5 separate regions of the Homo sapiens genome follow, and regions 2, 3, 4 and 5 are each reported to be linked to region 1. Evidence: microRNA targets listed by miRTarBase, many of them from high-throughput screens and not tested one by one. Region 1 holds a microRNA gene; each other region holds the end of a gene's coding sequence. Distances are between the middles of the regions.

What was found. Region 1 holds the annotated microRNA hsa-miR-6795-3p (ACCCCUCGUUUCUUCCCCCAG, at 2,170-2,190, shown strand). A microRNA usually pairs through its seed, bases 2 to 8, with sites in the 3' UTR of a target mRNA and lowers its output. Matches are read on the target gene's strand: a 7mer-m8 pairs with bases 2 to 8, a 7mer-A1 pairs with bases 2 to 7 and ends in A, and an 8mer does both.
Region 2: the mRNA of ANKRD65 is a reported target of hsa-miR-6795-3p. Seed matches in the 3' UTR shown: 7mer-A1 at 3,506-3,512 and 7mer-A1 at 3,476-3,482.
Region 3: miRTarBase lists SEPTIN9 as a target of hsa-miR-6795-3p. Seed matches in the 3' UTR shown: 8mer at 2,165-2,172.
Region 4: the mRNA of QTMAN is a reported target of hsa-miR-6795-3p. The part of its 3' UTR that is shown has no 7-base or 8-base seed match.
Region 5: miRTarBase lists BBC3 as a target of hsa-miR-6795-3p. Seed matches in the 3' UTR shown: 7mer-m8 at 749-755.

The regions. Positions count from the first base shown.
Region 1 is chr19:15,177,399-15,181,472 of GRCh38, reverse strand. MIR6795 (microRNA 6795) reads left to right here and starts at 2,123; the gene lies at 2,123-2,190. NOTCH3 (notch receptor 3) reads left to right here. Exons shown (of 33, transcript NM_000435.3): 18 at 311-512; 19 at 645-792; 20 at 1,217-1,401; 21 at 1,977-2,109; 22 at 2,191-2,448; 23 at 2,532-2,650; 24 at 3,383-3,948. RefSeq lists an enhancer at 1-288 and a silencer at 3,659-3,828.
Region 2 is chr1:1,415,518-1,419,553 of GRCh38, forward strand. It overlaps ANKRD65 (ankyrin repeat domain 65), which reads right to left. Exons shown (of 4, transcript NM_001145210.3): 4 at 2,903-4,032. The coding sequence ends at 3,583. Among named protein-coding and RNA genes, the nearest start is that of ANKRD65-AS1, 2.6 kb to the right of the region's middle. RefSeq lists enhancers at 2,732-2,811, 2,979-3,428.
Region 3 is chr17:77,498,108-77,502,143 of GRCh38, reverse strand. It overlaps SEPTIN9 (septin 9), which reads right to left. Exons shown (of 12, transcript NM_001113491.2): 12 at 1,551-3,621. The coding sequence ends at 3,486. Among named protein-coding and RNA genes, the nearest start is that of MIR4316, 100 kb to the right of the region's middle.
Region 4 is chr2:143,943,778-143,947,813 of GRCh38, reverse strand. It overlaps QTMAN (queuosine-tRNA mannosyltransferase), which reads left to right. Exons shown (of 12, transcript NM_001376312.2): 12 at 679-4,036. The coding sequence ends at 762. The region is part of intron 2 of QTMAN-AS1 (QTMAN antisense RNA 1); the gene reads right to left. Among named protein-coding and RNA genes, the nearest start is that of QTMAN-AS1, 8.7 kb to the right of the region's middle.
Region 5 is chr19:47,218,248-47,222,283 of GRCh38, reverse strand. It overlaps BBC3 (BCL2 binding component 3), which reads left to right. Exons shown (of 4, transcript NM_014417.5): 4 at 366-1,460. The coding sequence ends at 482. Among named protein-coding and RNA genes, the nearest start is that of MIR3190, 6.7 kb to the left of the region's middle. RefSeq lists a silencer at 2,065-2,265.

The DNA.
Region 1 (4,074 bases):
GGTACCCACTGCGGACTCTGATGACTGATGGGGCAGGGCCAGGGAAGGAGCAGGGCGTCTGTTTGGAGCTCACCTTGGAGTCTCTGGTGCCTGAGAGGGCATGGCTTCCAGGTGGCTCTCACCTTAGGGCTGAAGTCCCTGGTGAATTGGAGCTAAGGGACCTGATTGGCTTCTGCTGGGGCTGCAGCTTCTTGCCGAGATAAGGGTCAGGGAGTGGGACGTCCCCAGCGCTAACAGCGGGACTCAGGAAGGAGGGCAGGGCCTGTGAGGGGGCGGAGCCTGATCCTCCCTCCCACTCCTTCCGCTCCAGCTCCTGCTTCAATGGCGGGACCTGTGTGGACGGCGTGAACTCGTTCAGCTGCCTGTGCCGTCCCGGCTACACAGGAGCCCACTGCCAACATGAGGCAGACCCCTGCCTCTCGCGGCCCTGCCTACACGGGGGCGTCTGCAGCGCCGCCCACCCTGGCTTCCGCTGCACCTGCCTCGAGAGCTTCACGGGCCCGCAGTGCCAGGTGGGTGGAGTTACTGGGGACCTGGGGGAGGAGCCTGCCTGGGATCCTAGGAGGGAGAAGCCAAGTCGGGGCACAGTTTCTCCCAGACTACCCCCCACCCCACAGTACTGACTCTGAGTGCTTCCCCTCCAGACGCTGGTGGATTGGTGCAGCCGCCAGCCTTGTCAAAACGGGGGTCGCTGCGTCCAGACTGGGGCCTATTGCCTTTGTCCCCCTGGATGGAGCGGACGCCTCTGTGACATCCGAAGCTTGCCCTGCAGGGAGGCCGCAGCCCAGATCGGTGAGTGGGAGCATGTGGGCGGGCGTGTGGGGCCTTGGGAAGGGGCTCATGCACGTACCTCCTGCTAGTGTGAGCCGAATGGGGGTGCCACAGAGCCTATGGGGCATGATGGGGTGTGTGGCTGAGTGGTGTGGGTGTGTGAGCATGTGACAACTGGCCGGGATGGTGTGTGTCTGTCACTGTGAGACAGCAGGGATGGTGTGTGTGCTACAGGGTGTGACCGAGCTGCTGTGAGCGTTGAAGGCATGTGTGTGTATGTCAGTGATGAGACCTTGCCTGCTGGGGGGATGTGTGACAACCTGATGGAGTGTGGGTGCGATCCTGGGGACTCATTCCACCAAGGATGTTGAATGATCTGTGTGATGGAGGCAGAAGGGGGATGTATGGGGTTACCTCTGTTCCTGTGCCACTCTCCTCTTTGCAGGGGTGCGGCTGGAGCAGCTGTGTCAGGCGGGTGGGCAGTGTGTGGATGAAGACAGCTCCCACTACTGCGTGTGCCCAGAGGGCCGTACTGGTAGCCACTGTGAGCAGGAGGTGGACCCCTGCTTGGCCCAGCCCTGCCAGCATGGGGGGACCTGCCGTGGCTATATGGGGGGCTACATGTGTGAGGTAAGGGGGCGCTCCCCAGGAGAGGGAAGAGGAGGTGGGCATGCTTGGGTGCGTCTGGGCACACATTTCTGTGTGGCTTGGTATGGGTATGTCTCTAGATATGTCTGAGTTTTTGCTTTTGTGACTCTTGGTGTATCTGTGGGTGTCACTCTGGGTAGATCTGGGGTGTTTTTTTATTTGTTTGTTTTTTTGAGACAGGTTCTCACTCTGTCACCCAGACGAGTGCAGTGGCGCGATCTCAGCTCACTGCAACCTTTGCCTCCTGGGTTCAGGTGATTCTTCTGCTTCAGCCTCTCATTATAGCTGGGAGTACAGGCACCCACCACCACGCCCAGCTAATTTTTGTATTTTTCATAGTGACAGGGTTTCACCATGTTGGCCAGGCTGGTCTCGAACTCCTGATCTCAGGTGATCTGCCCACCTCGGCCTCCCAAAGTGCTGGGATTACCTACTGGTAGTGCGCTGAACATCTGTGTGTGTCCTTTTGTGCTGGGGTTCTTTGCGTCTTCATGGGTATGTCCAGGTGGGTCTGTGTCCCACTAAGCTGAGTGGGTCCCTCTCTTACCCCACTGAAGTGTCTTCCTGGCTACAATGGTGATAACTGTGAGGACGACGTGGACGAGTGTGCCTCCCAGCCCTGCCAGCACGGGGGTTCATGCATTGACCTCGTGGCCCGCTATCTCTGCTCCTGTCCCCCAGGAACGCTGGGTATGCCAGGGCCAGGGTTGGGGGGACAGGATGAGAGGCTGTCTTCATTCCCTCTTGACCACCCCTCGTTTCTTCCCCCAGGGGTGCTCTGCGAGATTAATGAGGATGACTGCGGCCCAGGCCCACCGCTGGACTCAGGGCCCCGGTGCCTACACAATGGCACCTGCGTGGACCTGGTGGGTGGTTTCCGCTGCACCTGTCCCCCAGGATACACTGGTTTGCGCTGCGAGGCAGACATCAATGAGTGTCGCTCAGGTGCCTGCCACGCGGCACACACCCGGGACTGCCTGCAGGACCCAGGCGGAGGTTTCCGTTGCCTTTGTCATGCTGGCTTCTCAGGTAAGCGTTGGCGAAGGGGCTGGCCTGGGACCCCGCCTGTCATTCCCCCATTGTGGCTGATCTACATGCTCCCGCTCGCTCAGGTCCTCGCTGTCAGACTGTCCTGTCTCCCTGCGAGTCCCAGCCATGCCAGCATGGAGGCCAGTGCCGTCCTAGCCCGGGTCCTGGGGGTGGGCTGACCTTCACCTGTCACTGTGCCCAGGTAGGTGTGGGTGGCGGCCTTTGGAGGAGGAGTAGGGGCGTGGCCTCTGGAGTAGTAGGGGCGTGGCGTCTAGGAGGAGGATGTGGCTTTAGGGGAGACATCGAAGGGAAGGGAGTTTCTGGAAAATGCTGACATTTCCGCCGGGTGTGGTAGCTCACACCTGTAATCCCAGCACATTGGGAGGCCGAGGCGGGAGGATCACTTGAGGCCAGGAGTTAGAGACCAGCCTGGGCAACATGGTGAAACCCCGTCTCTACTAAAAATATAAAAATTAGCCGGGCGTAGTGGCAGCTGCCTGTAATCCCAGCTACTCGGGAGGCTGAGGCAGGAGAATCACTTGAACCCGGGAGGCGGAGGTTGCAGTGAGCCATCACGCCATTGCACTCCAGCCTGGCGACTGAGTGACACTCCGTCTCAAAAAACAAAGAAACAACCCCCTGCCCCGACATTTCCTGGAGGTTTGAAGGGAAAAGGGTGAGGATGGTGATTGGGGGGCGTGGCCTCCTGGGATGGCAGGGCTTATCTGCCAGGTGGGGTCTCCAGTGTGGAAAGGGGAGCGGTTGGGTGGGACATGGGGAGGTTGAGGGGGTCTCAACCTTCCTTAGTCTTGACCTCTTCTCTTCCCCCTCTCTCCCCTTGACTCTTCTTTTCCCCACTCCTCCATTTCTTCTCCTCCTTCCCTCCACTCCCCACCCTCATTTTTATCCCTCCCTCCCCAAACCCGACCCCCAGCCGTTCTGGGGTCCGCGTTGCGAGCGGGTGGCGCGCTCCTGCCGGGAGCTGCAGTGCCCGGTGGGCGTCCCATGCCAGCAGACGCCCCGCGGGCCGCGCTGCGCCTGCCCCCCAGGGTTGTCGGGACCCTCCTGCCGCAGCTTCCCGGGGTCGCCGCCGGGGGCCAGCAACGCCAGCTGCGCGGCCGCCCCCTGTCTCCACGGGGGCTCCTGCCGCCCCGCGCCGCTCGCGCCCTTCTTCCGCTGCGCTTGCGCGCAGGGCTGGACCGGGCCGCGCTGCGAGGCGCCCGCCGCGGCACCCGAGGTCTCGGAGGAGCCGCGGTGCCCGCGCGCCGCCTGCCAGGCCAAGCGCGGGGACCAGCGCTGCGACCGCGAGTGCAACAGCCCAGGCTGCGGCTGGGACGGCGGCGACTGCTCGCTGAGCGTGGGCGACCCCTGGCGGCAATGCGAGGCGCTGCAGTGCTGGCGCCTCTTCAACAACAGCCGCTGCGACCCCGCCTGCAGCTCGCCCGCCTGCCTCTACGACAACTTCGACTGCCACGCCGGTGGCCGCGAGCGCACTTGCAAGTGAGCCCATCCACCCGATCGATCCGTCTGTCTATGCATCCATCCCAGTCTGTTTGTCCGTGGGCCCTGCCTCTCTTTCCACCTGCCCATCCACTTGCCCCGTCTGTTTCTCTGTGCACTCTATCT
Region 2 (4,036 bases), not on the chromosome of region 1:
TCAAGCTTTAAATTGATCTGGTGTCCCTTGTGGGGCTCCAATTGCGTCTAAATAGATGTGAGAGTTGAAAGACCCATAAGGGGCTTCTCTCGCTTTACGATGTCTTTTTTTTTTTTTCTCCTCTGGTTGATGAAATGCCAGGGTGAAAGGGATAGCCAAACGGACTAAAGCACAAGTGCCACTCTAGTTATTCGGCAGAGTGCCCAGTACAGGTCCACCACAATACCACCACACATCCGCTCACATCCGCTCAGGGATGAACAAGGGCTGACTGATTGATAAGCTCTCGAAAATTCTTAAGCTCACTGCATCCCTTCCAGTCTCCAAGGACTGCTAAGTCTCCTCCCTGCCGTGAGAGACACGAAGGGAACTTAGTTTTGGGAGACGGAAGCTGGATGGCCCTCGGGGGCTGACCCGCAGGGACTGCAGAATGTAGCGGGGAGAGCTTGGCATGACTTGCTGCTCCAGGCTGTAGAATCCTGGAAAAGAGCTACCGTGCAGCCCACGCCTGGTCGACTGAAGGACCACCTTAGTGGAAGGGGGACAATCAGAGCCTTTGGCCTGCCATGTGCACGAGCATCACAATTGCTTTTGTTTAACATCAGATGGAATATCTGATCCATTTCAACCAGGCATTTTGCATCTTGGTATGCTGTCTTAATTGCCAAAGTTTGTTTTAAGTCTTAAACTTCCATGATCCTCTAGTAAAATGAATGTTTCCTTTAGCACCTATTTTTATTAGTTTTTAGACCAAAGAAAGCTAAACACCATTTTATATTTAATAATGCTTCTTGTATGATTTTTATACCAGATAAGCTAAATTTTACCTTTATATTAGTGTGTTATTAATGTTAAACTTAATTTTAATAAAACCTTGTAGACATATTTATCCAATTTTTCATGTTTGACCATAAGGTAAGATTTTATAGACTCTTTTTAACCTTTTATAACTTTTGTTAAAGAGCAGGTTGATGCTTTAAGAAAAACCTGTTGCATTTTTACTTTAATGTCCAGTTCACAGAAAAACTGGACGATACCTTTTTAACTTTAGTTAACATGTTTACACACAGAATTTTCTTTACAATTTACATTTTAAAACTTGCTTAAACTCTTAAAAACAATAATTTTTTTAACCTTTTAATGTAGGTAAAAATCCATATTTTTATGCCCCTTTATAATTTTTTTTACCAAAGGTATATTTTACTTTTCTTGTACACCTTGCACATAAACTTTTTTTTTTAATAGTACTCAGGGGCCAGGCGCGGTGGCTCACGCCTGTAATCCCAGCACTTTGGGGGGCCGAGGCGGGCGGATCACGCGGTCAGGAGATCGAGACCATCTTGGCTAACACGGTGAAACCCCGTCTCTACTAAAAATACAAAAAATTAGCCAGGCGTGGTGGCGGGCGCCTGTAGTCCCAGCTACTCGGGAGGCTGAGGCAGGAGAATGGCGTGAACCCGGGAGGCGGAGCTTGCAGTGAGCCGAGATCACGCCACTGCACTCCAGCCTGGGCAACAGAGTGAGACTCCGTCTCAAAAAAAAAAAAAAAAAAAATAGTACTCAGGAGGCCTTATTACTTTTAAATTATACAACATTTTTTGCATAAATTTTTTATAACATTTTGTTTTACAACTTTCGCCGACAATTCTTCAACATATCTCAACTTTCTGCCTTATTACAAACTTTTAAACAACCAGTTAATATATTTCAGGACAAGAATTTACCGTATAACATGCTTTTCACATAAATTCAGCCTCCCCTTTTTTTTTCTTTTTTAAAGCGAACTTTTTTTATGTCTTTGGACTAGACTGTCTGAGGCCACAAGATTAAAAGTTACCATTAACATGTTACACTGTTAACTTTTAGCAAACTTCGCTTTTGTTGAAAACCTTGGAAGTTTGGGATTTCAATTATCCTTTGCTATTAATAAGACCTTGTTTAGTCTAAATTAACTTAGAATTGGTATAGATGGCCTCTTTTTCTCTCTGCTGGTCTTTCCTTGCCTCTGCCAGCCGCTTATGCTGCTGTTCTCTTAACTACCGTAGGGGGGAGGGGGTCTAAAACCTGCTCTAACTGTCCATGTACGGAAACTGGCCTGGGTGCCTTGGCTTACACGTTACCTTGTGTCATACCTTTGAAACAAGGGACCTGTCCAGGCTTCCTTCTGATGGCCAACCCACCTCTAATGCTGACAAGTCTATTTCACACAAAGTTGTAAGTTTTCCTGGTGTCAGAGTAACACCGTAATCTCCCTTAAATTCTTTCTTGAAAAATTTTTTTTAACATAGTTCCTAGTGGGGTGGGCTTATCTGTGCCTGACCCACGCTTCTTCAAGACAAAACACCACGCTCACACCACAAAACAAAAAACAGGTAAAAAGGGCACACACACACTTTTGCAGTTTACACCAAACCAAAATCAAAACCAAAATCAGAGTATCCAGAAATCCAAGCCAGGTCAAAACCAAAACCAAAGTATCACATGATCTCAGTCAAGTCAAAACCAGAACAAAGGTGCTAATGCAGGCACGCCGTGGGCGATCAGGCCACGCGTCTACTCAGGTGGAGTGGGGCAAGTTCCAAAGACTAGTCTTACCAGGTTTCAGATGTCCGGACTCCAAGTGCCAGTTCCTTCCCGGTGTTCAGCCACTGTGTTAATCCACCATGGGGGCCCGTTATGGGCTGCTCTGGCGAGGTGTTCCACCGAGGCAATTTCCTACCCGGGAGCGCTCTTTAGCTCACGTCACTCAGGCTGGCCGGAGTCCCCCGCAGGGATGCTCCACGGGGCAGGCCTAAGCCGCCTAAGGGGCTGCCTCGGTCGTCTGTCAGTTACCTCGTTTCCCAGTCAGGGAACCAAGAAATGTAGCAGGACGAGCCGCAGACAAAACCTCTCAGACACCCAGTTGTAGAAGGAAGGGCTTTATTCAGCTGGGAGCATCGGCAAGCTACTGCCTTAAAATCCGAGCTCCCCAAGTGCACAATTTCTGTCCCTTTTAAGGGCTCACAACACCGAAGATTTCACATGAAAGGGTCGTCATTGATTTGAGCAAGCAGGCGGTACGTGACAGGGGCTGCATGCACCGGCGGTCAGAGAGAAACAGAACACGGCAGGGAGTTTCACAAATGTTCTTCTATACAATGTCTGGAATCTATGAATAACATCGGTTTCTAAGTTATGAATTGATTTTCAACTACTGGGTTTAGGCCAGGCAGGCGCAGGCCTGGTTTCGGGCCTAGCGCCAGGCTGCCTGCCTGTCTTTGGTTTTACTTCCTTGTTGTTTTTTCTTAAAACAGGTACTGAGTATAAAACACTATGAGAGGGTCTCTCTTCCCTCATTGCCACAACTCATTCTTTGTTGAAGTATGGAGAAGGCTGGAGCTGCAGGGTCAGTGGGCCCTCCTGGGAGCTGGGGGCCATCCCTGGTCCAGCCAAGGCCTGTGACTGCAGCTCAAGCCACATCCCCTACTTTCTCCCATCCCCTCCTCCGGAAGCCTCTTCCCTGATGTCCCCTCCAGGCAGGCAGCCTCAGCCAGAGAGCCTGGAAATCACTGGGGCGGTGGAGCCTGGAGCCTGCTGTCTGGCTCAGCCCGTGGACTCTATGCCCTCACACTCCTTCTCCCCCCCTCCAAGTTCAGGCAGCGCCTGGGGCAGGTCCCCCTCAGGCATCTGGGCCACCTCGGCCCACTGCGTCCGCAGAGTGGGGCTGGCCCCTCGGCTCAGCAGAAGCCCCACGGTAGGCCCATGCCCTCGCTCTGCAGCCAGGTGTAGGGGGGTCTTTCGGAGCCAGCCGGTAGCATCCACCTGGGCACCCCTGTCCAGCAGGCAGCCGGCAACCTCCACGTGGCCTTCCCGAGAGGCGTGATGCAGGGGTGTGAGGCCCAGGGTGTCCCGCGCATCCACCTCGGCCCCCTGGGTGACCAGCAACTGGACGGCAAGCAGGTGTCCTCGGGCGGCAGCCCTGTGCAGCGCAGAGCGGCCATGCCTGTCCCTGATGCCTGGGTCTGCCCCGTGGCCCAGCAGCACCTCAATGTCCTAG
Region 3 (4,036 bases), not on the chromosome of region 1:
TGAAGGTGAGGATCTAAATGAGATCGAACTGAATCAAGGTGGGCCCTCAGTCCTGGAAGAGTGCCCTCTTGGCCCTCTTGACCCTCCAGGACAGAGAGAGAGAAGGCTGTGAAGACGGAGGCAGAGATGGGGTGAAGTGGCCAGCAGGAGCTGGGGGAGGAGAGAGGAACCTCCTCTAGAGCCTTTGGAGGGAGCGAGGCCCTGGGACACCTGGATCTCAGACCTCTGGCCTCTAGAACTGTGAGAATAAATTTCCGCTGTTTTCAGCCCTGCTGCATGGTCATCTGTTAAGGCAGCTGCAGGGCACTAATACACGTGGGAGAAGGGATCCGGGTGAGGCCCTTCTGCACACGCAAAGGGCATACGGACCAGAGCTCCCTGAACCTTACTTCCTAAGCTCACCTGCAAAGAAAAGCTCACTCAGCCAAGGCTCTGACTTCTAATCTATTTGGAATCAAGTTCTCTTGGAATGAGTTAGGTTGGCATAAAACAACTGTCAAATACTGACCAGTCTGGAGTTCAATCTAATATAAATTTCTAAAAGAAAAACTTACTGTCAGCCAGGCATAGTGGCTCACGCCTATAATCCCAGCACTTCGGGAGGCCAAGGCAGGAGGATCACCTGAGGCCAGGAATTTGAGATCAGCCTGGGCAACATAGTGAGATCCCATCTTGACAAAAAATGAAAAAGTTAGCCAGGTGTGGTGGTGCACACCTGTGGTCCCAGCTACTCAGGAGGATCGCTTGAGCCTGGAAGGTAGAGGCTGCAGTGAGCTGTGATCGTGCCGCCGCACTCCAACCTGGGTTACAGAGCAAGACCCTGTCTCAAAAAATAAAACAGAAAAAGTTATTTTCAAGGATACACTAACTAGAAGCAGCTCACAGCGCCCCCTGTGGACGCCCTTCAGATCCCCCACTTTAATGAAAGCGTTCAGATCTGCCATTCACTTTTCAGTCATCTCCGCTGAGTGCTTCTCAAGCCCTGGGAACTTTTACCCCAGGTAGATTAAACAACGCCCCAGCAATCGCCTTGATGCTATTCTCACTCTTCACAGTGCTCTGGAATTATAAGTTCTCAGGGAGTTTGTTAGTTTCAAATCTTGGGAGTCTGAATTCGAGATCTGACCTGGCCTTACCTTTTCTTTTTTTTTTTTTTTTGAGATGGCATCTTGCTCTGTCGCCCAGGCTGGAGTGCAGTGGCATGATCTTGGCTCACTGCAACCTCTACCTCCCGGGGTTCAAGCGATTCTTCTGCCTCAGCCTCCCGAGTGGCTGGGACTACAGGCGCCCACCACCATGCCCAGCTAATTTTCGTATTTTTAGTAGAAACGGGGTTTCACCATATTGGCCAGGCTGGTCTCAAATTCCTCACCTTGTGATCCAACTGCCTCAGTCTCCCAAAGTGCTGGGATTACAGGCGTGAGCCACCGCGCCCGGCCTACCTTTTCTTGCCCATGCTTCTTGCCCACCTGCAGCTGACCCCAACCTGTCCCGAGGCCCAAAGAACTGCACTTCAGGGGCAGAAAAAACATTCTCACTCAGGAGCCTTCTGGGTTTCTGCATTTGAAACATTTATTTCAGGAAATACATTTTCAACACTTTGTCATTTATACAAAAAGACAAATTTCTCGGGAGGCACGTAGCAAAAGGCCATTGAGGAACAGAGCCTGATGAAACGAACAATTTTTCAAAGTCTGGTTACAGAGAAGGAAAGTGAAGCATCTCAAGGCTGGGATGCTGCTGCCCACCCCCACCCCACCCCGCCACCAAGTGACATTGAGGCTGGGCAGGCCACATGGCCTGGGCCCTGGCGCTGGCCACTCATTTCCTTCAAAATCTTGGTTTTGGCAAAAACATGGCAAGTTGGCAAAGTAAACTGTCTCACCAGTGGGGGTGGTGAGGGGTCCTTCCTCTCTTGGGTGGGGAGGGAGTCAGACGCCCAGTGCCCCAACTTCCATGCACACACACTCACACTCATACACTCCTTCTCGCTGACCTTCTCCTGGCTGCAAGCAGCCAGCCCGGTGCCTGCAGATGCACCTGGTGATGTGTGCACCTGAGTGGAGTCTCATCAGGCCCCTCTTTCTCCCCAGGAGCAAGACAGGTAACAGGAAGCAGGAAGGGACTTTGGTCATCTGTGCCCTGCAAAGACAGCCCCCATGGGTCCCCTCGTGGGGACAGAGGGTGAGGGGCCGGGCCGTGCTGCCACGAAACCTTGCTCTTCAGCTGTGGACTGTGCACCCCTGACGCCCGTTCTCTCCTTTCTAGGGGTTCGTTACCATGGGCTCTGAGGGGAGGGGCCCAGGCACGGGTAGATCAACAGAGTCAGGCTCGCCTGGCCTCCCACCTCCCCAGCTCAGAGAGTCAGCAAGGCCTGGGCCAGGAAGGGTGAGTGGCAGGGGTGGCTGGCTGGGCATTAATGTAACTACAGCCCAGTCTTGGGCCAAACCCAGACACTAGACAGACAGACGGACACGCATACACATGGACACACACACACTTCCCTGGTCACTTGGGCAGGGCAGGCGCCGGGCAGCTCACGCCACTCTGACCAGCCCAAGCCACGGCCCACACGTGCCCCCGCCAACCTTCCTTCTGGCACCTTCCATGGCTCCCTCCCTCAGCTCCTCCACCAGACTCACTTGCTTAGACCTTTTCAAAACTGGGGGATGAGGGGGTAGGGGTCATCTCTCCTTCCTTTTTATCCTCAATCAGATCCCAGCGCATCAGCAGCACCTGCAGCCCGGTGGGGGCGGGGGTGGCGTGAGAGGGGGATGGCAGGGAGATGAAGACGCCTCCCTCATTCCAGCCTGTCCCCGCATCTGGCCAAGCAGTCTGCGGATGGCTGAGATAAAGGCACTTTCTGCTCCAGGAGGGGCAGCTGCCAGGGGGCTTGGAGTGGCTGGGCAGTCGGTGGCAGGGGACCCTGGAGTTTTCTACCCTTAGGAGCAGGGCAGGGGTAGGGGCTGAGTGATGGCCACACCATGTGGCGGGCAGGGGGTCCAGGTGCTCCTGGTGGGCTGCATTCTCCCCTGGGCTCTGACACACTCCAGGGGACAGGGCCGATGGGGATGGAGGGGAGCGTGCAGCCCACTGGGCTCCTCTGCAAGTGCGAGGCCTGGCCCCCACCCCAAGGCCTCCGGCACTGAGAACCCCACACAGACGGATGATCTGCACACCGAAGCTGCTCTTCTGAGCCCTCGGGGAGCCAGGCCTGGGGACAGAGGGTCATGTCAATTCAGTGGGTGCTCTCACCCCTGCCTGTGGCTCCAGTGCAGCCTCCCCACAACCTCGGGGAGGCCGCGGCCTCATCACTGACTCACTCGGAGGGAGGCCCCTTCCCTTGTTTCCTGGCAGCATGTCGAAGGGGTGGGGAACGATGACAAATGGAGAAAATCATATAAAATAAAATGGGGTGGTGGGAGGGCCTGGGGGGGGACGGAAATGACTTGGGGGCAGGATCCCGGGGGTGGGCAGGGTGGCGTCTACATCTCCGGGGCTTCTGGCTCCTTCTCCTCCATGCCGTTGGCCATGGCGCTGCTGCCCTCGTTGAGGCGCTTCACACGGTACGCCTCGAAGTGGATGCTGCTGGTGATGTCCTTGATGTTCTGCATGTGCGTCCTGTGGGGGTGGGGGGCGGGCGGGTCAGTGAGGTGGGCGCAGCGGGGTGGGGGCAGCGGGGCAGGGGCCCTGCTCGGCCTGCCTCGGACTCAGGCCCGCCTGCCCCCACCCCCACTCCCCATCCCGACTGCTTGGCTCCCCATGGGGTCCCCCAGGCCCACCATGTTGGACCAGATCTGGTACACGTTTTGGGGGAAGGGTCAGTCCCCCTGGTAAGCCCAGACTCGGTCAGAACACACATATTCCAGTGCATGTGTCTCCCTCTGGGTCCACCCTATGGCCCTGGGTCCAGGGCCCAGGGACAGTGCATAGACTCAGAGGGACAGGGCTGGAGCATTGTTGCTCCAGGCCGGTGTCCAGGGTGCTGGCAGGGTGGAAGCAGTGGGTGACCACCGGCCTCCAGGACTATGGCCTG
Region 4 (4,036 bases), not on the chromosome of region 1:
AATAAAATAAAAGGAAAAAACCTTTTAGCATCACAGATATGCTTTGGCTGATTAAGATCAGTTAGAGGTTTTGTCCTTCTCTGCTACTCATTTGCAACCTGATTCTAGGTGATCTTCTTGGCCTCTATGTGATTCATCTGTAAACCTGGAAGAATATTTTTTTAAATATCAATGTACCCCTGAAGTACTGGTATAATGAAATAATGAATATAAACCTGTTATAAATATGAAGCACTTTTTAAATTTCACATAATAGTAATGGCATTTATCTTTGTGTCTTCATCATTTAAAAGTAAAATTCACGGCAGAAACTTGTATGTACAGTGTTACGTGTCTTGTGTTTATATAAGTTAAAAGTTGGATGATGAACTTTCATCATCCAACTATGAATGGTTGTCATTCATAACATAAACCAAGAAATATGTGTGCAGCAGAATATACCCATTTGCAGAAAACAGTAGCCTTCTTCTCTGGTTGGAAATACAACGACACTTTAGACCAATCAGAAACTGAGATTTCCTGAGGTGATGAAACTCAAGAACCATTTACTTGGTGGCTTTTTGAAATGTAATTGACGTAAGTGATGCAAATTTGCAATATAAATTTTCAGCATACTTTCATCTTTTAGTCATTAATGCTCTTCACTTCTTTCTCTTCTCTCCCTCCTCCTCGTTGCAGGGTGAAATCGCTCCGTTTTCTTGGGCAGCCCTACATGGTAAATTCAGGTCTCTGCTTACAACAGAACCTAGGGAAGATTTGTGACAGATGGGGCTAAGTCACAAACTTGCAGCCTAAGGCAGAATCTGAAGAACTTTCCAGAGTGTGCCCATATTTACCTGATCAGAGAGAAAAGAAAATCTGCAGAGGAAGCTGAGCCTGGCTGCTTGTCATAGCTGACACAGAGCCATCTGCCACAAACCTGTGGCGGCTTCAGATCTCCAATCCCTGCCACCACCCCAACTCAAATTAAATACAGATTCCTAGAGACGTTATGATGGTTACACATGTCCTCGGCATCACATGTAGGAGACTGTTCAAAAAAAATATGTGGCCTGTTGTATAACCGCACTCATGTATCCCATATGTGGTGCCACATTGAATTTCCGGTTGAATCCGTTTTTATCCTTTGTACTGGATGACATGGTGCCTGAATTCTTTCTTTTCGCCGACACGATGGCAGCCAAACTGCAGCTTCAAACGCTCACACTTGGCTGGGTTTCTACCTAGGTTGCCAGGTTATCATCGGAGCCTTCTTGTGTCCTCAAAGGGCCACGAGGCCTGAAAGGAGGATCAGAATGCTTTGGGATTAATTGGGCAGCCATCGCAGAATTGTTTGTGGGCAAAGGGCTGCTTTAGCACTTTTCTTTTAGCAAATTAATGACTCTCAGGCACAGGGGGTTTTAAGTGAAGGTATTAATAAGAGGTCTGGCAGGTATTCCCATGATTCACAGAGTTACATTTGCATTTAATTAATCTTAAAGTTGCAAGATAAACAGCTGTAATTCGGACAAACATGACAAACACAGTGAAGCCAACTATCCCATAAAATGAACACTGACATACTTGTTTTAATTTTTTTCCCAGCGTAAAAATAGAAAAATCAAAATACTCCTAACAAAACCAGTGATTTTGATAGAAATATTTCTCCAATATACTTGCATCCACCTACAAATATAACCTTTTCAAGATAAATCGCTTATGATTTCAATAGTCAAACTGCTGTGTTTGTTGATGTAAAGATGTTTTGAATGGCTAGATGGTAAAATAAATTCTTAATAAAGTACCCACTGCAATTTTTAATTAGCATATTCATTTACATATAGATGTATACATCTACCTATGTGTTTCTCACTGAACGTTTTCCTTGTGACAGAGACAACAAATACAATTGTTTCTTTTCCGGATGAACAAGGATCTGTTTTGCAAATGTTTGTAAGATATTATGACATTTCCAAGATTTTCTTTGCATTCTGGAAAGCAGGAGGTAAACATTTGTAGTCATTAAGGTAAAGTCTGTTGATAAACCATCTTCTGTTTACTGACAGGTAAATTGTAACTTTCCCTAGCTTTTGAAATGAGTAACTTCTATACACCACAAAGTGAGGCACAGCCTGGGAAAGGTGGCTAGACAAGGGGCAAGCCAGGCTTTCTAGCTTCTGGAAGGATCGAGTGGCCTAGCAGGCATCTAAGATAAAGAAAGCAATGATTCGGAAGTCCAGTAGGGCCCATTTGACCGGTAGCAAAATCGAAAGCACGAAATAGATCAAGGTTAGGGAGCCAGACAAAGCCCTTGGAAGAGAGGCAGTATTGCAGATCGAAGCAAGCAGTTCAGAGTCTATGAGGCCTGGGAATTTAAAAGCAGGAAGAGTAAGAAGCAGAAACAAGAAGCTCCATCTGAACAGACTCCTCTCTCCAACCTTCATGAGACCCACAGTGTGTGATGGGCCACCACAGCACTGGCTTCTAGACTTTTACAGGGAAGCCAGTGAACAAATTACCTCGTCACCCAGAAAACAAAGAGCTCAGGAACTATTTTGGAAGTTCCTTCCAGTCTAAGACTATGGAACTCAGAATCTAGCAGGTGTGTTCCTTTGGATAGCAAAACTAAAGATATAAATATGAATAAGAAATTCTTTGCCACTTCTCCTGGGCAAGGTTATACTTTATGCCATCTACTGAGATAAACCAGATGAGTCAGTTTGCTTCTGTCAGTTGCTGTGTCACAGATGACATCTTCTCAAAATAATATTATCTCACAGCCAAGAAATAGCGCTTCGTTTACTGTGTTTTTCTATCCTGAAACTAAATGGGCTTACGCTTCATAGTGGCTAAGATACTCCACACACAACTAGTACCCATAGATCTTTTCTCACTGATAGGAAAAAAAAAAAAAAAGCATTAAACACCTTTCAGAGAGTACATCTGAAACATTTACGTATTTTCCTGATTTAGGCAAATATAATATTGAAAGTTACCTGTATGTGGGCATTTTTTTCTACACTCATAAATGCAAATCAAATTTTGCCATTAGCTGTGGCCAACATTCCTTCCAGGACAAAAGCTTACATTAGGCCGGGTGCGGTGGCGCACGCCTGTAATCCCAGCACTTTGGGAGGCCGAGACGGGTGGATCATGAGGTCAGGAGATCGAGACCATCCTGGCTAACACGGTGAAACCCCATCTCTACTAAAAATACAAAAAAAATTAGCCAGGCATGGTGGCGGGTGCCTGTAGTCCCAGCTACTGGGGAGGCTGAGGCAGGAGAATGGCGTGAACCCAGGAGGCGGAGCTTGCAGTGAGCCGAGATCGTGCCACTGCACTCCAGCCTGGGCGACAGAGCGAGACTCTGTCTCAAAAAATAAATAAATAAATAAATTTAAAATAAATTTTAAAAAAATTACATTAAAGGTGTCACTTATTTGCATGATACCGAGATTTGGAGTTTAAAGAAAAACCTTATAAAGACTGTAATGTCAGAGTTGCTACTAGTTCACATAAGCAATAAAAAGTTTTGTAAATGTGTAATTCTTAACATTTAAAAATATGTAGGAGTGTGTGTGTGTGTGTGTGTGTGCACACGCACATTCATGCTTCTCAACACCCACGACCTAGTGGAATGGAGTGTTATTAAATAAGTTAATCAGTATTTTGTTGAAATCTCAGCAGATAATTAGTACTACACGTTGACTCATTAATTCAGTTTCCCTTATCAACCACCCCCATCATTTATTGTTTTGAGTATGTTTGATGGAAAACTTAGTCTTCCTCTTTTTTTTTAACACTCGATTGTTTTTTTCTTTTAAAATAAAGTCAATTTTAATTTTAAATGTCTTTAAAAGTCCATCCATTATCAAGACTTTGACACAGTGTCTTGAAATACAGCTTGCCCTAAACTTAATCTATGCTTCTGGCTAGGTGTTTCTATAACAAATATCAGGGCACCTGGTTCTTAACCTTCTCATTTATACTGTGTTGACAGAAATAGATGCAAATACCTTTTTAAAAATGCTCCTGGTTTAATAAGCATCCTTCAAAT
Region 5 (4,036 bases), 32 Mb from region 1:
TCCTTTCTCCTCATCTTGCCAGCCCTGTAGGGAGGGGCAGGATAGGTTGCAGTCCATCCTTCAGCCCCTTGGGGGATGTCTTTCTCAAATGTACAACAGAGACGGGGCAGTCACAGCTAATGTGCCACGCACTCGCTTGGTGCCCAGCTCTCTGCTGAAGGCATTCCGTGTTTGTCCTCTGCCTCCAGGTCTCATGTCCTGGATGAGGATGTGACCTCCGAGACATGGACATTAGCCCAGGCGGGGGGAGGAGCTGGAATAGGGTGGGCGAGACTGTCGCCTCGCTGCCCCTGGAGCTGACCATCCCCACTCCCATCACCATACTCAGTCCCCTGCTAACTGCCCCTTCTCTCTCTTTTCCCCAGAGACAAGAGGAGCAGCAGCGGCACCGCCCCTCACCCTGGAGGGTCCTGTACAATCTCATCATGGGACTCCTGCCCTTACCCAGGGGCCACAGAGCCCCCGAGATGGAGCCCAATTAGGTGCCTGCACCCGCCCGGTGGACGTCAGGGACTCGGGGGGCAGGCCCCTCCCACCTCCTGACACCCTGGCCAGCGCGGGGGACTTTCTCTGCACCATGTAGCATACTGGACTCCCAGCCCTGCCTGTCCCGGGGGCGGGCCGGGGCAGCCACTCCAGCCCCAGCCCAGCCTGGGGTGCACTGACGGAGATGCGGACTCCTGGGTCCCTGGCCAAGAAGCCAGGAGAGGGACGGCTGATGGACTCAGCATCGGAAGGTGGCGGTGACCGAGGGGGTGGGGACTGAGCCGCCCGCCTCTGCCGCCCACCACCATCTCAGGAAAGGCTGTTGTGCTGGTGCCCGTTCCAGCTGCAGGGGTGACACTGGGAGGGGGGGGCTCTCCTCTCGGTGCTCCTTCACTCTGGGCCTGGCCTCAGGCCCCTGGTGCTTCCCCCCCTCCTCCTGGGAGGGGGCCCGTGAAGAGCAAATGAGCCAAACGTGACCACTAGCCTCCTGGAGCCAGAGAGTGGGGCTCGTTTGCCGGTTGCTCCAGCCCGGCGCCCAGCCATCTTCCCTGAGCCAGCCGGCGGGTGGTGGGCATGCCTGCCTCACCTTCATCAGGGGGTGGCCAGGAGGGGCCCAGACTGTGAATCCTGTGCTCTGCCCGTGACCGCCCCCCGCCCCATCAATCCCATTGCATAGGTTTAGAGAGAGCACGTGTGACCACTGGCATTCATTTGGGGGGTGGGAGATTTTGGCTGAAGCCGCCCCAGCCTTAGTCCCCAGGGCCAAGCGCTGGGGGGAAGACGGGGAGTCAGGGAGGGGGGGAAATCTCGGAAGAGGGAGGAGTCTGGGAGTGGGGAGGGATGGCCCAGCCTGTAAGATACTGTATATGCGCTGCTGTAGATACCGGAATGAATTTTCTGTACATGTTTGGTTAATTTTTTTTGTACATGATTTTTGTATGTTTCCTTTTCAATAAAATCAGATTGGAACAGTGGATACTCTTTCTGCTTGCCTTCCCTGCAGCCTGGCCTTGGAGAGGCTTCTGATCGGGGGCTCTGCTCTGTGAGCCCTGCTTGTGAGTGGGTGGGAGAGGTGGGCCCTGGCAGTTGTGGCTCCATCAGAAGAAAGGCTAAGGGGCCTGGGCTTCTCCAGACCGGGACGCTCCTAGCCTTCATCATCCCCATTCCCGGTAAAAGTGAAGCTTGGCCTGGTGCCATGGCTCATGCCTGTAATCCCAGCACTTTGAGAGGCCGAGGTGGGTAGATCTCTTGAACCCAGGAGTTCAAGACCATCCTGGGCAACACGATGAAACTCCGTCTCTACAAAAATAAAAAAATAAAAAAAATTAGCCAGGCATGGTGGTGTGTGTCTGTAGTCCCAGCTACTCAGGAGGCTGAGGCAGGAGGATCACTTGAGCCCAGGAATTGGAGGCTGCAGTGAGCGATGATCAAGCCACTGCACTCAAGCTTGGGTGACAGGGTGAGACCCTGTCTCAAAAACAAAATAAAAAGTGAAGTCCCCATGAGGTGTTGTAGGGGCGCTTGATATTTAATGGATGAGTGAATGACCCGTAACATATTCAGAGGCACCACTGTGACAAGTGCTTGGGATAGAGTCATGAGACAGACCTCGTTTCTGCCGTCACAGAGACAGAAAGGGACATCTGGCCTTGCACTGTGATCAGCCGTAGGCTGCCTCTCCAGCTGGAGGAGCACCTGGAGCTAAGATCACAGTGAGTCTCCGCACACTGCCCTGAGGCCTAACCAGGCTGGTCATAAGCGGCTGTGTTGAGTAAATGTAGAAAGGGTTGCTCCTACTGCCATCTTCTGCAAACAGGGCCATGGCCACACACTGCCCTTGAGCCCTTTCCCTGTGCTGATACCTGACTGGCAGAGACCTCAATGAGAAGCAGGGAGGTAGGCAGATCACCTGAGGTCAGGAGATCGAGACGAGCCTGACCAACATGGCGAAACCCCGTCTCTACTAAAAATACAAAAATTAGCTGAGCGTGGTAGCGAGTGTCTGTAATCCCAGCTACTGAAGAGGCTGAAGCAGGAGAATTGCTTGAACCTAGGAGATAAAGGTTACAGCGAGCCAAGATCCTGCCATTGCATTCTAGCCTAGGTGACAGAGCAAGACCCTGTCTGGAAGGAAGGAAGGAAGGGCATAATCCCAACACTTTGGGAGGCCAAGGTGGGCGAATCACCTGAGATCAGGAGTTCGAGACCAGCTTGGCCAACATGGTGAAACCCTGTCTCTACTAAAAATACAAAAATTAGCCAGGTGTGGCGATGCAAGCCTGTAGTCCCAACTACTCGAGAGGCTGAGACAGGAGAATCCCTTGAACCCGGGAGGCAGAGGTTGCAAGTGAGCCGAGATTGCACCACTGTACGCCAGCCTGGGCGACAGAGGGAGACTGTCTCCAGAAAAAAAAAAAAAAGGAAAGAAAGAGAAAGAAGCAAGGTATAGGCCAGGTGTGGTGGCTCACACCTGTAATCCCAGCACTTTGGGAGGCCGAGGCGGGTGGATCATGAGGTCAGGAGATCGAGACCATCATGGCTAACAAGGTGAAACCCCGTCTCTACTAAAAATACAAAAAATTAGCCGGGCGCGGTGGCGGGCGCCTGTAGTCCCAGCTACTCGGGAGGCTGAGGCAGGAGAATGGCGTGAACCTGGGAAGCGGAGCTTGCAGTGAGCCGAGATTGCGCCACTGCAGTCCGCAGTCCGGCCTGGGCGACAGAGCGAGACTCCGTCTCAAAAAAAAAAAAAAAGAACAGCCTAGAAACATAGCAAGACTCCATCTCCACACACACAAAAATAATTTTTTTAATTCGCTGGGCATGGTGGCACATGCCTATAGTACCCACTACTCAGGAGGATGAGGCAGGGGGATCATAGCTTGAGCCCAGGAGTTGGAAGCTACAGTGAACTATGATCATGCCACTGCACTCCAGGGCAACAGAGGGGGACTCTGAAGCAGGGTATATAATTATATAATATTTACAGACACAGGGTCAGTCCCAGCTCCACCCTTTCCCAACTGTCCTTGCTGCTAAAGGGACACTAGGGGAAATGGCCCATCTGGATGGCCAGGGTGTGGTAACTGGCAACAATCACTTTGGAGAAGCATTTGATAAAACCGTGTGTTGGGATACGAATGTGTCCCCCAAAGTTCTTGGGTTGGAAATTTAACCTGCAGTGCTACAGATTTTAGAAGTGAGACATTTAAGAGATAATTACGTCACCAGGGCTCTGCTCTCAGAAATGCACTAATGCCATGACCATGGAAGTGAGTGAGTTTTCACGGGAATGGATTCCTTATAAAGAATGAGTTCACCCCTCTGTCTCAGATGAGATGCCTTCCGCTATGTTACAAGGAAGCCGGAAGGCCCTCACCAAATACCAGCCCCACCATCTGGGACTTTTCAACCTTCAGATTTGTGAGCCCATAGATTTCTCTTTTTTTTTTTTTTTTTTTTTTTGAGAGGGAGTCTCGCTCTGTCTCCCACAGAATCTCACTCTGTCTCGCAAGCTGGAGTGCAGTGGCACAATCTCAGTTCACTGCATCCT